Linked DNA regions of Homo sapiens. The protein of the gene in region 1 purifies or fractionates together with the protein of each later gene. This does not show direct contact. Each region holds a gene or a part of one and is shown in the gene's direction. Other genes may lie near its edges. The genes, in order: SLF2, NSMCE2 and NSMCE4A.

Region 1 (3,653 bases):
TTAGTTTATCTGTTACCTTAATACAGATGACATATTCCACAAAAATAAATGAATTAGCTTTTTTTTGCTTTAGTAAAAATAAATTTCATCAGTAAAAAAATAGGTTTTCTGTCAGTAAATCATCAGGGTCAAAGATAAGGCCGTTAAATGATTTATTGAGCTTCAGATAACTCAAGTTTTATGTACAGATATTTTACATGAAAATTTTACTGTTCTATAACAGCTTATATGTTCCTGTACAGACTTCTCTTGAAACATTGCCTATATTTCCAATTAGAACTAGAGCTCCTCTTGGCTCATTCATTTGCTTTTCAAGCAGTATTAATTAAAATACATTCTAAATACTTTTAACTTCTAATTCTAGGCAACTGAGACAGTGCCTCAGTCTAGTGATTATTTCAAAGCTTTTGGATGAGAAACACGAAGATGTTCCTAATGCCAGTAATCTGCAGGTATAAATAAATACATTTTTATTTTTAATAAATGGGAGAGGTAATGAGAGGTGTAAGGAAAATTGATGAACCCTAAGTCAAAGGTCCTGGGGTCAGAGCTCAGCTCTTAAGCTTGATACTGTTCATGTAATCTCTAGCACACTTAACTAACAAGATCCAATTTTTTCATCTGTGAAATGGAGATAATATTGCACCCTCCACCACTTAGGGTGGTTGTGGACAATCAGATGTGAATTAATGTATAAAGAAACTACTGGGAAAATCATAATGTGCAATTATATGAATATGATTTCATTTATTGAATTAGTTCAGCTTTTCCAAGTTAGCAATTTTATCACAAGATTAGAAATTGCAAAACCCTTGTACATTGATTGCATCTTTAACCTGTTTTAAAATGAGTCTTTTTAGATCATAGAGCTTAAATGTAGTTGCCCTCTAGTACTTGTTCAGTAAGAATATATCATGTATATATGAGAGTGTGGATAAACATGTCCAGCTGTTGCTGGGTACTGGTGGCACACACCTATCGTCCCAGCTACTTGGGAGGCTGAGGCCAGAGGATCCTTTGAATCCAGGAGTTCAAGTCCAACCTAAGCAACATAGGGAGACCTTGTCTTTAATATATATATGAATGTTTTTAATTAAAAAAAATGTCCAATGGAAGTCCCACTCTGAGTAAAATTCTGAAGGCTTTTTATAAACATTGATAGCACTAATGGGGCTGCCCTTGCTTGGATTTGAAAACTCACCATAGGATGGGCACAGTGGCTCACGCCTGTAATCCCAGCACTTTAGGAGGCCGGGGCAGGTGGATCACGAAGTCAGGAGATCAAGACCATCCTAGCCAACACGGTGAAACCCCGTCTCTACTAAAAAAAATACAAAAAAATTACCCGGGCATGGTGGCGGACACGTGTAGTCCCAGCTACTCGGGAGGCTGAGGCAGGAGAATGACATGAACCCAGGAGGTGGAGCTTGCAGTGAGCCGAGATCACGCCACCGCACTCCAGCCTGGGCAACAGAGCGAGACTCTGTCTCAAAAAAAAGCCCCATAGAACCTGATCTGGATGTCCCTTTGTTCTTGTTTGAATTGCAATTTGGTACAAGGTATGCCACCAGATCCTAGGAATTAAAACAAACAAAGATTTAGATTAGAGACTCTGCCCTTGAAAACATAATCTAATGGTTGAAACAAAATTAACCAACTCTTATGGGTTAGTGTGGTAAGAACAGTAATCGAAGCATGCACGAGATGCTGTGGGATGGAGAGACTGATGGGCACAGCTGGTTTCTGCTTTAGTAGAATTGAGGTAGATTTGATTCCAGATATATGGGGATCATGCTGGAGCTACCAGGATAATTAGCAGATAGTTCTCATTCCTTTCATTGATATTTACTGCCTTCAAAAGAGATCCGGGGATAGGATTTCTACCATTTCTCCTAACTTTTGTTGTTCTGTTACTTTTTCCTTTTTTGCCCATGTAAAATAGAATAATTAGCTGAATAATTACATGAATAATTAACCCTCAAACTCACTAACTGATATTCAAGTAACAATCTAGTTGTGATTTTTACCACAACTTCTTGTAGTTCTTCTCAGAATTCAATGACTTCTAACCACAGAGTCAACTTTGTTGACTTTCAAATAATTTAACAGAGAAAGCATTCCCTGTGGCCTCTATGATAATATCGTTTGGTCTCCTAAGCATTTATCCTAAGTTACAAGTACTAAATCTTTAACTTAAAATCCCTTTTTTTTTTTTTGAGAGATGTAGTATTGCTCTGTCACCCAGGCTGGAATGCAGTGGCACAATCTCGGCTCACTGCAACCTCCACCCCGCATATTCAAGTGATTCTCGTGCCTCAGCCTCCCGAGTAGCTAGGACTACAGGCATGTGCCACCATGCCCAGCTAATTTTTGTATTTTTAGTAGAGGCGGGGTTTCTCCACGTTGGCCAGGCTGGTCTTGAACCTCTAACCTCAGGTGATTCACCTCCCTTGGCCTCTGAAAGTGTTGGGATTACAGGTGTGAGCCACCGTGCCCGACCACTTAAAATCCCTTTTTAAGCAATTCAGGGTTTTACATAAAGGGAAAATGGATATTGTTAAGTGTAAAGAAAGCTATAATAAAAGGACAAAATGAAAGAGTACACACTGGAAAAAAATAGCCTAAGAAAGAACAACTATATTATTTAGCTTTGTTCAATGTCTCCTCTTTCTTTTGATAGGTATCAGTCCTACATCGCTATCTTGTGCAGATGAAGCCTTCTGATTTGTTAAAGAAAATGGTCTTGAAGAAAAAGGCTGAACAACCAGATGGCATTATTGATGACAGTCTTCATTTAGAACTTGAAAAGCAGGTATCCAGTGCTAGAAGGTCTCAAAGAGTACATAGAAGCATAACTGTTATCAGCTTACTAACCATAGACTGATATGTAGGCATTTCTGGATTTGGACACTAGACACATTCTAGCAAACATAATTTTAAAGCGAATAATATTTTTAATTTATCACTGTCATGAAATTCTTCCATAAATTTGAGAGTTGAAAATTTAGGTAAAAGGATGATTGTTGGTAATTTGCTCCCAAGAGTATTTTTTGTAGCCCTTTATTAGGGCAGTCGTGAGGTCATGAATCATGGTAAAAAGAATGCACTTGAGTTAGAAATGAGAAAGCCTAGTTTAGATGCTTCGCTTTTACTTACTGACCAGCTGGGTTAACTTGACCGTATCCTTTATCCTTCCTGGGCAATTTTCCTAATGTGTAAATTGGAATGACATCTATGCTAGCTAATTCATAGGTGTTAATTTTATTCATTTCTCTAACAGGCATATTACCTGACCTACATTCTTCTTCATTTAGTCGGTGAAGTTAGTTGTTCTCATTCTTTTTCTTCTGGACAACGGGTAGGTAGTGTTTAGTGTTGTTGCTGCTGTTTTTAAATAGGTGTTACTGATGATGGAATGAGTGAGCATGCTTTATATAGGAGAAAACTATGTAAACTTTTCTTAATATAAAAGCTAATTGATTTTGCTATAAGAATTCCCATGTATACCAGAAAGAGGGGCATGATAATGGTCTTGTAACTATATCGTATTGAAAAGAATTGTTGGCCAGGCGCCATGGCTCACGCCTGTAATCCCAACACTTTGGGAGGCCAAGGTGCGTGGATCACTTGAGGTCAGGAGTTCAAGACCAGCC
Region 2 (3,653 bases), on another chromosome or scaffold:
AGGAACTGGCAGGAATATAGATTTTCTCTTTTTTTTACAGTTTCCAGAATTCAGTATGCATATATGTTGGATAGTTTAACGATTACAGGTTTTCAAAATAGTTTACTAATAAACTATTTTATTAGTATTTTTTTCTCTTTGGAAAATTGCATCATATGAGTGGTCTACTTTTTCTAACCCATTTATCTTGTAGGCTTTTAAGAACTGTGCTATTGTTGACTTCTTCACAGAATCAAGCACTCTTTTGGAAGAGGGTAATCTCTCTCCAAAAACTGAGGACACTTACCTTCCCCATATATTGAGTCCAGCTGTGTTTGGTGGCCCAGGTGAGTGGCACAGTGATTTGGTGTCTTCTCTATAGGATATACAGAATAGTGTGGCATTTATGAGATATTGGATACATTTGTATGAATGTTTACAGCAGTTTTATTAATATTTTCCTGTGCAGTTATTATTCTGACTTACGAATCTTGTTTCATTGTGTTTGAAAACTTAGGTACTAATTTCAAGATGCCAGGACGTTCCAGTTCAAATTCAGGTTCAACTGGTTTCATCTCCTTCAGTGGTGTAGAGTCTGCTCTCTCCTCCTTGAAAAACTTCCAAGCCTGTATCAACTCTGGTATGGACACAGCTTCTAGTGTTGCTTTGGATCTTGTGGAAAGTCAGAGTAAGTAAAATTAAAACCTCTTTTGTGTCTACTTTGAGGTAACACTGTGTGGTGGTATTTATCTGGGGGTGCCTTTTGAGTATCCTTGGGGGAATGATTTAACCCCTCTAGGCATCTGTTGTCTCATTTTATTCTACACACCGCAGCAGGGTACTGAGGGTGAAATAAGATTGACTCATTCATGTGTGTTCAGACAGTTAAGTTCCATGAGAAACTGCGCTAGAAATGTATGGGCAAAGATTTGAAGATCCTGACCCCAAGGAGCATACAATCTAAAGTATTTGACATTTGTGAACTGTAAGGTATATAAATTTATTATGATATTGTTATTTTTCAGTAGTTTATACTTTGGTCATACTTGATTAACCAGTAGATAGACTAAGCTTATGCTAGGGATACCAGCAAAGGAAGGCCTCAACAAAAATGAGAAAAGTTCAACTTTAATGAATTTTACCTACATTTGTTCAATCAAGAAGATCTAGAAAGATGTGATTTGCAGGCCGGGTGCAGTGGCTCACCCCTGTAATCCTAGCACTTTGGGAGGCCGAGGCCGGCAGATCACGAGGTCAGGAGTTTGAGACCAGCCTGGCCAATATGGTGAAACCCCGTCTCTACTAAAAATACAAAACCAACATGGTGAAACCCCGTCTCTACTAAAAATACAAAAAATTAGCTGGGTGTGGTGGCAGGTGCCTGTAATTCCAGCTACTCGGGAGGCTGAGACAGGAGAATCACTTGAACCCGGGAGGTGGAGGTTGCAGTGAGTCGAGACCGAGCCACTGCACTCCAGTCTGGACAACAGAGCAAGACTCTGTCTCAAAAAAAAAAAGAAAAAAGATGTTATTTGCTTTCTTTGGAGTAGAATCGTTTTTATTTTATTTTACACATGGAGCCAGAGGAGCAGCATGATCCTTTTGTTTTGTTTTTATTGGCATAGGTTTTGAGCAATTTGTGATGTGCCGTGGTGTGATTTTTTTTGTCCTGACTGATATTGTTTGAGATTTATGGATCTGTCAGCTTATAGTTTTTTGAATCAAATTTGGAAAAATTTCTGCTACTATTTCTTCAAATATATTTTTTTAATTCCTCTGCTCTCCTCTCCTTCTGTGTGACTCACATTTCATGTATGTTAGATGGGTTGATATTGTCCCATAAATCAGTGGAACTTGATAGATTTTTTCCAGTCTTTTTACTCTTTAGCTTCAATTTGAATAATTTCTATTGCTAAGTTCATTCATCTTGTCTACTGCAGTGTCTAATCTGATAATTCCATTTAGTGAATTTAAAAATTTCAGTTACTGTATTTTTAATTGTTGAAGACATAACAAAGAATTAAGTAGAATCTTTTTTTTTAGTCTTCCATTTCTTTCTTCATTGTGTCCATATTTTCCTCTACATTCTTGAGTATATGGAGCATGTTTATAATAGCTATTTTAATATCCTTGTATGTTAATTCTGTCATCTCTATGTGTATTATGTTGTTGAGTGTTTGGATTTTGTTGTCTTTTTTTTTTTTTTTTCAGCCGGAATTTTGCTCTTGTTGCCCAGGCTGGAGTGCAATGGTGCGATCTCGGCTCACTGCAACCTCCGCCTCCCGGGTTCAAGCGATTCTCCTGCCTCAGCCTTCGGAGTAGCTGGGGTTACAGGCATGCGCCACCACGCCCAGCTAATTTTGTAATTTTAGTAGAGACGGAGTTTCTTCATGTTGGTCAGGCTGGTCTCAAACTCCCAACCTCAGGTAATCCGCCTGCCTTGGCCTTCCAAAATCTTGGAATTACAGGCATGAGCCTCCATGCCCAGCTTGTTGTCCTCTTTTAAATAGTGTTGGAGTTTGTTTGGTGTGCAGCTAAGTGATTGTGGATTAGGCTGATCCTTTCTAGGCTTATCGTTAAGCTTTGTTAGGTCAAGTCTAATATAGCCTTTATGTTAGGGCTAATTTAGCCTTGTTACAAAGCATGGCCCTTCTGGAGTCTCTCTTGATTGCCCCGAGGGTTCAGTGCGATAGCTCTACTCTGGCTGGATGGAATTTGAGTGTCTCCCGGTCCTAGGTCCTACGTGACTGAACCTGGGAGTTGTTCACTTTATAGCTGTCAGTATTTGTTGCTCAGCATCTTAGGACTCAGCATCAGACTCAAGGGGACCCCAGTGCAGATTCCTAGAGCTCTTTATCTGCATAGCTCCCTCACTCTCTTGCAAACCCTGCTGGCTGCCTCAGCCTCCCTGAACTGAAGTCTCTGTCTCCTCAATCCTTCAAGACTGCTGTGCTAGGCCGAGCATGGTGGCTCCTACCTGTAATCCCAACACTTTGGGAGGCCGAAGCAGGAGGATCTCCTGAGGTCAGGAGTTCCAGGCCAACCTGACGAAACCCTGTCTCTACTAAAAAACAAAAATTAGGCATGGTGGAGGATGCCAGTAGTCCCAGCTACTGGGGAGGCTGAGGCAGGAGAATTGCCTGAACATGGGAGAAGGGGGTTGCAGTGAGCCGAGATTGTGCCACTGTACTCCAGCCTGGGGAAGAGAGTGAGACTCTGTCTCAAAAACTCCCTTGGATTCCTCCTCCCTTGCGCAGGGAGGAGGCCATTGCAAGACTTTTCCCAGTTTTCCCTTATTGCAGTAATTACAGTCCTGTCCCGCCTTTGTCCTACTGTCCCACAGCTATTGTTTCATATATTTTGTTTAGTTTTTCAGTCATTCATGGCAGGTGGACCAGCTCCATACAGTTATTCATTTACGGCTAACAGCAGGTGTCACTCATAATCTTTTTAGTGGGTGGCCTCCAAATGTTTTAACCCTACCCAGTCTGTTTTTGATTATGTTTTTGGTGATCATAATTTAGCTTTGATAGATAGGCCTGGATAAAAGTCATAATAAAATCTTAAACCATAAGAGAGAAGACTGGAACATAACCCCTTGGGAGATTGTATCAGTTTTTTTCAGGATTCTTTTTGAAGATTCCTGGGAGTTTTAGCTACAGAGTTTTTTTTTT
Region 3 (3,653 bases), about 21 Mb from region 1:
AGTCTGATTGCCTTTAATAGGGTTAAGCTCCCTGAGGGTTTTGTGATTATTGTTTATATATGATATTGCCATCGTAATTGGATAACTTCTAGGCATTTTACAGTATAATGTAATAAAAATGTACTTTCATAAAAGTAAATTCAATATAACACATTTTCTGTAAGACAGTTTGAGATGAGAGAATTATTTGACTTCCGCCAACTCTTCCCAGGAAGGCAATTTTAAGATGAGCCATTCTCTCAGTGATGCCGGGCCACTGCTCTCTGGATATACTGAGATACAAGCTGAATAGAGATTTGTAGGAGGTTGGCAAAAAATTAAAATCTGAAAACCAGCTGAACTTCCTTGTGCTGTCTTGAAGCTTTTGATTTGGGATTTAATTTTATATTTATATGTTAGTGCAGCTTTACTAATACACGAACTATTGGTGATACAAAAAATCCCAGGGGGCTGAGTTCTGGCATACCTAAATACTTCTGGCTGCCAGTGGGCTACAGCAGGGTTTCTCAGCACTGGCACTATGGATTGGCATTTTGAGCTGGGCATGTCTTTGTTTTGGGGGCTGTTACTGTGCATTATATGATATTCAACAGCCTCCATGGCCTCTACCCAGTATATGCCAGCAGCATATCAGTTGTGACACCCACAAATGTCTCCAGGTATTGCCAGAAGACCCCTGTGGGCACGTATACCCAGGTTGAGAACCACTGGTCTAAATCATTTCACTTTCTCACCCAAAGGTTTTAAGTACATTGAGGAATGTTTTCTGCCAAAAAGAAGGTAGCTTTGGAAGCAGGACTTTAACTGTAAAGTTATCTTCACAGTAAGAAATTTAGCCAGCATGTTAAGACACTGAAAGCTGGCTTTGCGTCTGGCCTCTTAAAGGTTGAGTGATGCGGATTATTGGATGTGGAAAATGATTGCATGTGGCTTAACTGGGTTTTTTGTTTTCCTTCATTTTTGTAGCTCACACATATGGGTGTAAATCCGCTAGAAGCTGAAGAACTCATCCGTGATGAAGATAGTCCTGATTTTGAATTCATAGTCTATGACTCCTGGAAGATAACAGGCAGAACAGCAGAAAACACCTTTAATAAAACCCATACATTCCACTTTCTGTAAGATTATTTTAAAAATCCAACAGACCAGTTATTTGTGAACCTTAAATTGCTTTTTCTTGTAGGGACAAAGATTATTTGGTATTGTAGAGGTGACAGTCATGATGCCGTTGTTTGGAGACTTTTGAAACTTTGATATGAAAGTTCATAAACACTAGGCCGGGTGTGGTGGCTCATGCCTGTAATCCCGGCACTTTGGCAGGTGGATGCAGGTAGATCATCTGAGCTCAGGAATTCAAGATCAGCCTGGGCAACATGGCGAGAACCCATCTCTACCAAAAATACAAAAAATTAGCCCGCTGTAGTGGCCCATGCCTGTGGTCCTGGCTACTTGGGAGGCTGAGGTGGGAGGATCACTTGAGCCTGGGAGGCAGAGATTGCAGTGAGCTGAGATTGCGCCATTGCACTCCGGCCTGGCTGACAGTGAGACCCTGTCTCAAAAAAGAAAAAAAAGTCCATAAACTCTAGATGTGGATGGAACCTTAAAGGATCTCTCATTCTGCTTTAGCAGAAAAGGCCAGAACCTCTTTACCAGTGCTCTCCTGGCTCCTTTGCTTCTAGCTCATGAGACTCTGGGTTTATCATCTTTAAAATCCTTATCATATAGGAGGATGATACCTCCTACTGAGGGTATCTTATGAGTCTCCCAACGTCTAAAGTGACATTTATTATAATACCCTGTTAGATGACCACTGACTTGTATTTGAAGATTACTTGTCACTGCCACATAAACTGTCCAGTTCATTTTTTAGATAGAACTCTGATTTAAAAAAAAGATTTCTTTATATTTGAATGAAGTTGGCTTCTGTCTTAACTTCCTGGCATGGTCCTATGGAGAAATTAAGAACAGCTCTTACTGGCTCTTCTCTAAGAGGACCTTCAAGTATACTGGTTTTGTTGCCCAGTAAATACTTTAGGGTAGCCATCTGAGTTGTTCAGTCCTTCTTTAAGTGGTATAGCTCCTGGGCTTTTGTCTTTTCTAATTTGTCTTTCTAAAAACCATTGAGATTGATAGTAGCTCGGGTAGAAGGCCTTGGAGATGCCAATGTAGTAGTGTGGTGTGGGGTCTGGCATCTATTTTTAATAAGACTTCAGGTAACTCAGGTGCCCAGAGCCATTTGTGTATGTTCTATTTAATAGGATGTAGTCCAAACTTCTTCATCTTAGGATAAAGTCTAAATCTTTGTTTTTTGCTATTGTACTAAACTCATAAATCCTAGGTTATAAAGATAAAGCCTTAAACTTTATCTCATCATCCAGCCCAATTTCCAGCCACAATGAAGTACTTAAAACTCTGTGTCTTTGTACTTGCTGTTCTCTTGGCCTCCAATTCCTTTTCATCTTTTCCATTCGGTAAAGTTTGTTTATCCCACAGGCCCCATCTTGGAAGCCTCCAGCAACTTCTCCAGACAGAGGTGTTAGCAGTGTAGGATCAGATTTCTCAACCACGTCACTCCCATGTCTGGGTAGATATCTCTGCCCAAGTGTTCTCATAGCACTTGAGCAGTACTCTCTAAGCGCCCAGGATCTACCATGTTGCTTTTTTAAAATTTGATTAATTTATTTTTTTATACTGCTCCTTGTGGAGCAGGAGTGTTCCCAGAGTAGCCCACCATGTTATATTGAAATGGATCTGTGTGCATAATGCAGCTGTCCATCTACATCGTATATTTTTGTCTCCTCAAGGGTAGGGACCACATGAGCCTTATTCTTGGGGCTTTGATCTCTACATGATGCAGACTTACATCTATTACTGTAACCCAAGTCTGCATGAGGGCAGAATCCAGAAGGAAAAGGAATCCCATGGCTGTGACTTGCCCTGTTATCCTAAGACAGATGTGTTCTGTAGTCCTGGGCTGGGAGCCTCTGCCTTGGCCTCCCCAGATCAAAGTCTTCTGACCCCACTGGAGCTTCCCCACATACATGTTCATCCTTCCCCTGCTCTTAGAAGTTGGCTTTGCAAAACAATAGGTTGGGTGGTGGGAAGATGTCACAGGCATATTCACTGGCCTACTTTACAGGGCAGTATGTAGGTGTCTGAGGAGGTATCTGTGGTTGAGTAAAGCTCCTAGGAGTTCTTTTAGAAATACAAAGAAGGCAGAAAGGCTGTCACAAACCTTATCAAGAGTCTTACTCTGATGTCAGCTTGTATATCACTGATGTCTGGTCTGAATTTGACTATACCATGCAAACTACTTTTAGTTAGTAAAGTTAGTTTGTTTAACAAACAACAGGCAAAAAAAATAAATGAAAGCATACTTTTCATTAGGTTGGGTTCAATATACGGAGAGTGCCCTGTGCCAAAGCCACGAGTTGATCGTCCAAGAAAAGTTCCTGTGATACAAGAGGAGAGGGCAATGCCTGCCCAGGTTTGTTTTAAAATGTTGCTTTTAAAAAAACACATTAAAGTTAAAATAGCTGTTAAAATAATGTGCATGCAATTTGGCCATTTTTTCTAAGTGTGCGGGTCTGGAGCCAGGTTTTGTCACTTAAATAATCATTTTATTTAAGCCTTTAAGCATTTTATTGGATTGG

Evidence for each region.
Region 2: the proteins of SLF2 (region 1) and NSMCE2 purify together in Homo sapiens (affinity purification with mass spectrometry; one large-scale study listed by BioGRID and IntAct). This does not show direct contact.
Region 3: the proteins of SLF2 (region 1) and NSMCE4A purify together in Homo sapiens (affinity purification with mass spectrometry; one large-scale study listed by BioGRID and IntAct). This does not show direct contact.

What each region holds. Positions count from the first base shown.
Region 1 is NC_000010.11:100,947,396-100,951,048, forward strand, and holds part of SLF2 (SMC5-SMC6 complex localization factor protein 2), read left to right. Parts: intron 1-364; coding exon 365-452; intron 453-2,680; coding exon 2,681-2,812; intron 2,813-3,280; coding exon 3,281-3,358; intron 3,359-3,653. UniProt on the Homo sapiens protein: Plays a role in the DNA damage response (DDR) pathway by regulating postreplication repair of UV-damaged DNA and genomic stability maintenance.
Region 2 is NC_000008.11:125,101,821-125,105,473, forward strand, and holds part of NSMCE2 (E3 SUMO-protein ligase NSE2), read left to right. Parts: intron 1-193; exon of another isoform or gene 194-230; 5' UTR 231-326; intron 327-496; 5' UTR 497-510; coding exon 511-667; intron 668-3,653. UniProt on the Homo sapiens protein: E3 SUMO-protein ligase component of the SMC5-SMC6 complex, a complex involved in DNA double-strand break repair by homologous recombination. Is not be required for the stability of the complex.
Region 3 is NC_000010.11:121,965,120-121,968,772, reverse strand, and holds part of NSMCE4A (non-structural maintenance of chromosomes element 4 homolog A), read left to right. Parts: intron 1-966; coding exon 967-1,118; intron 1,119-3,387; coding exon 3,388-3,487; intron 3,488-3,653. UniProt on the Homo sapiens protein: Component of the SMC5-SMC6 complex, a complex involved in DNA double-strand breaks by homologous recombination. The complex may promote sister chromatid homologous recombination by recruiting the SMC1-SMC3 cohesin complex to double-strand breaks.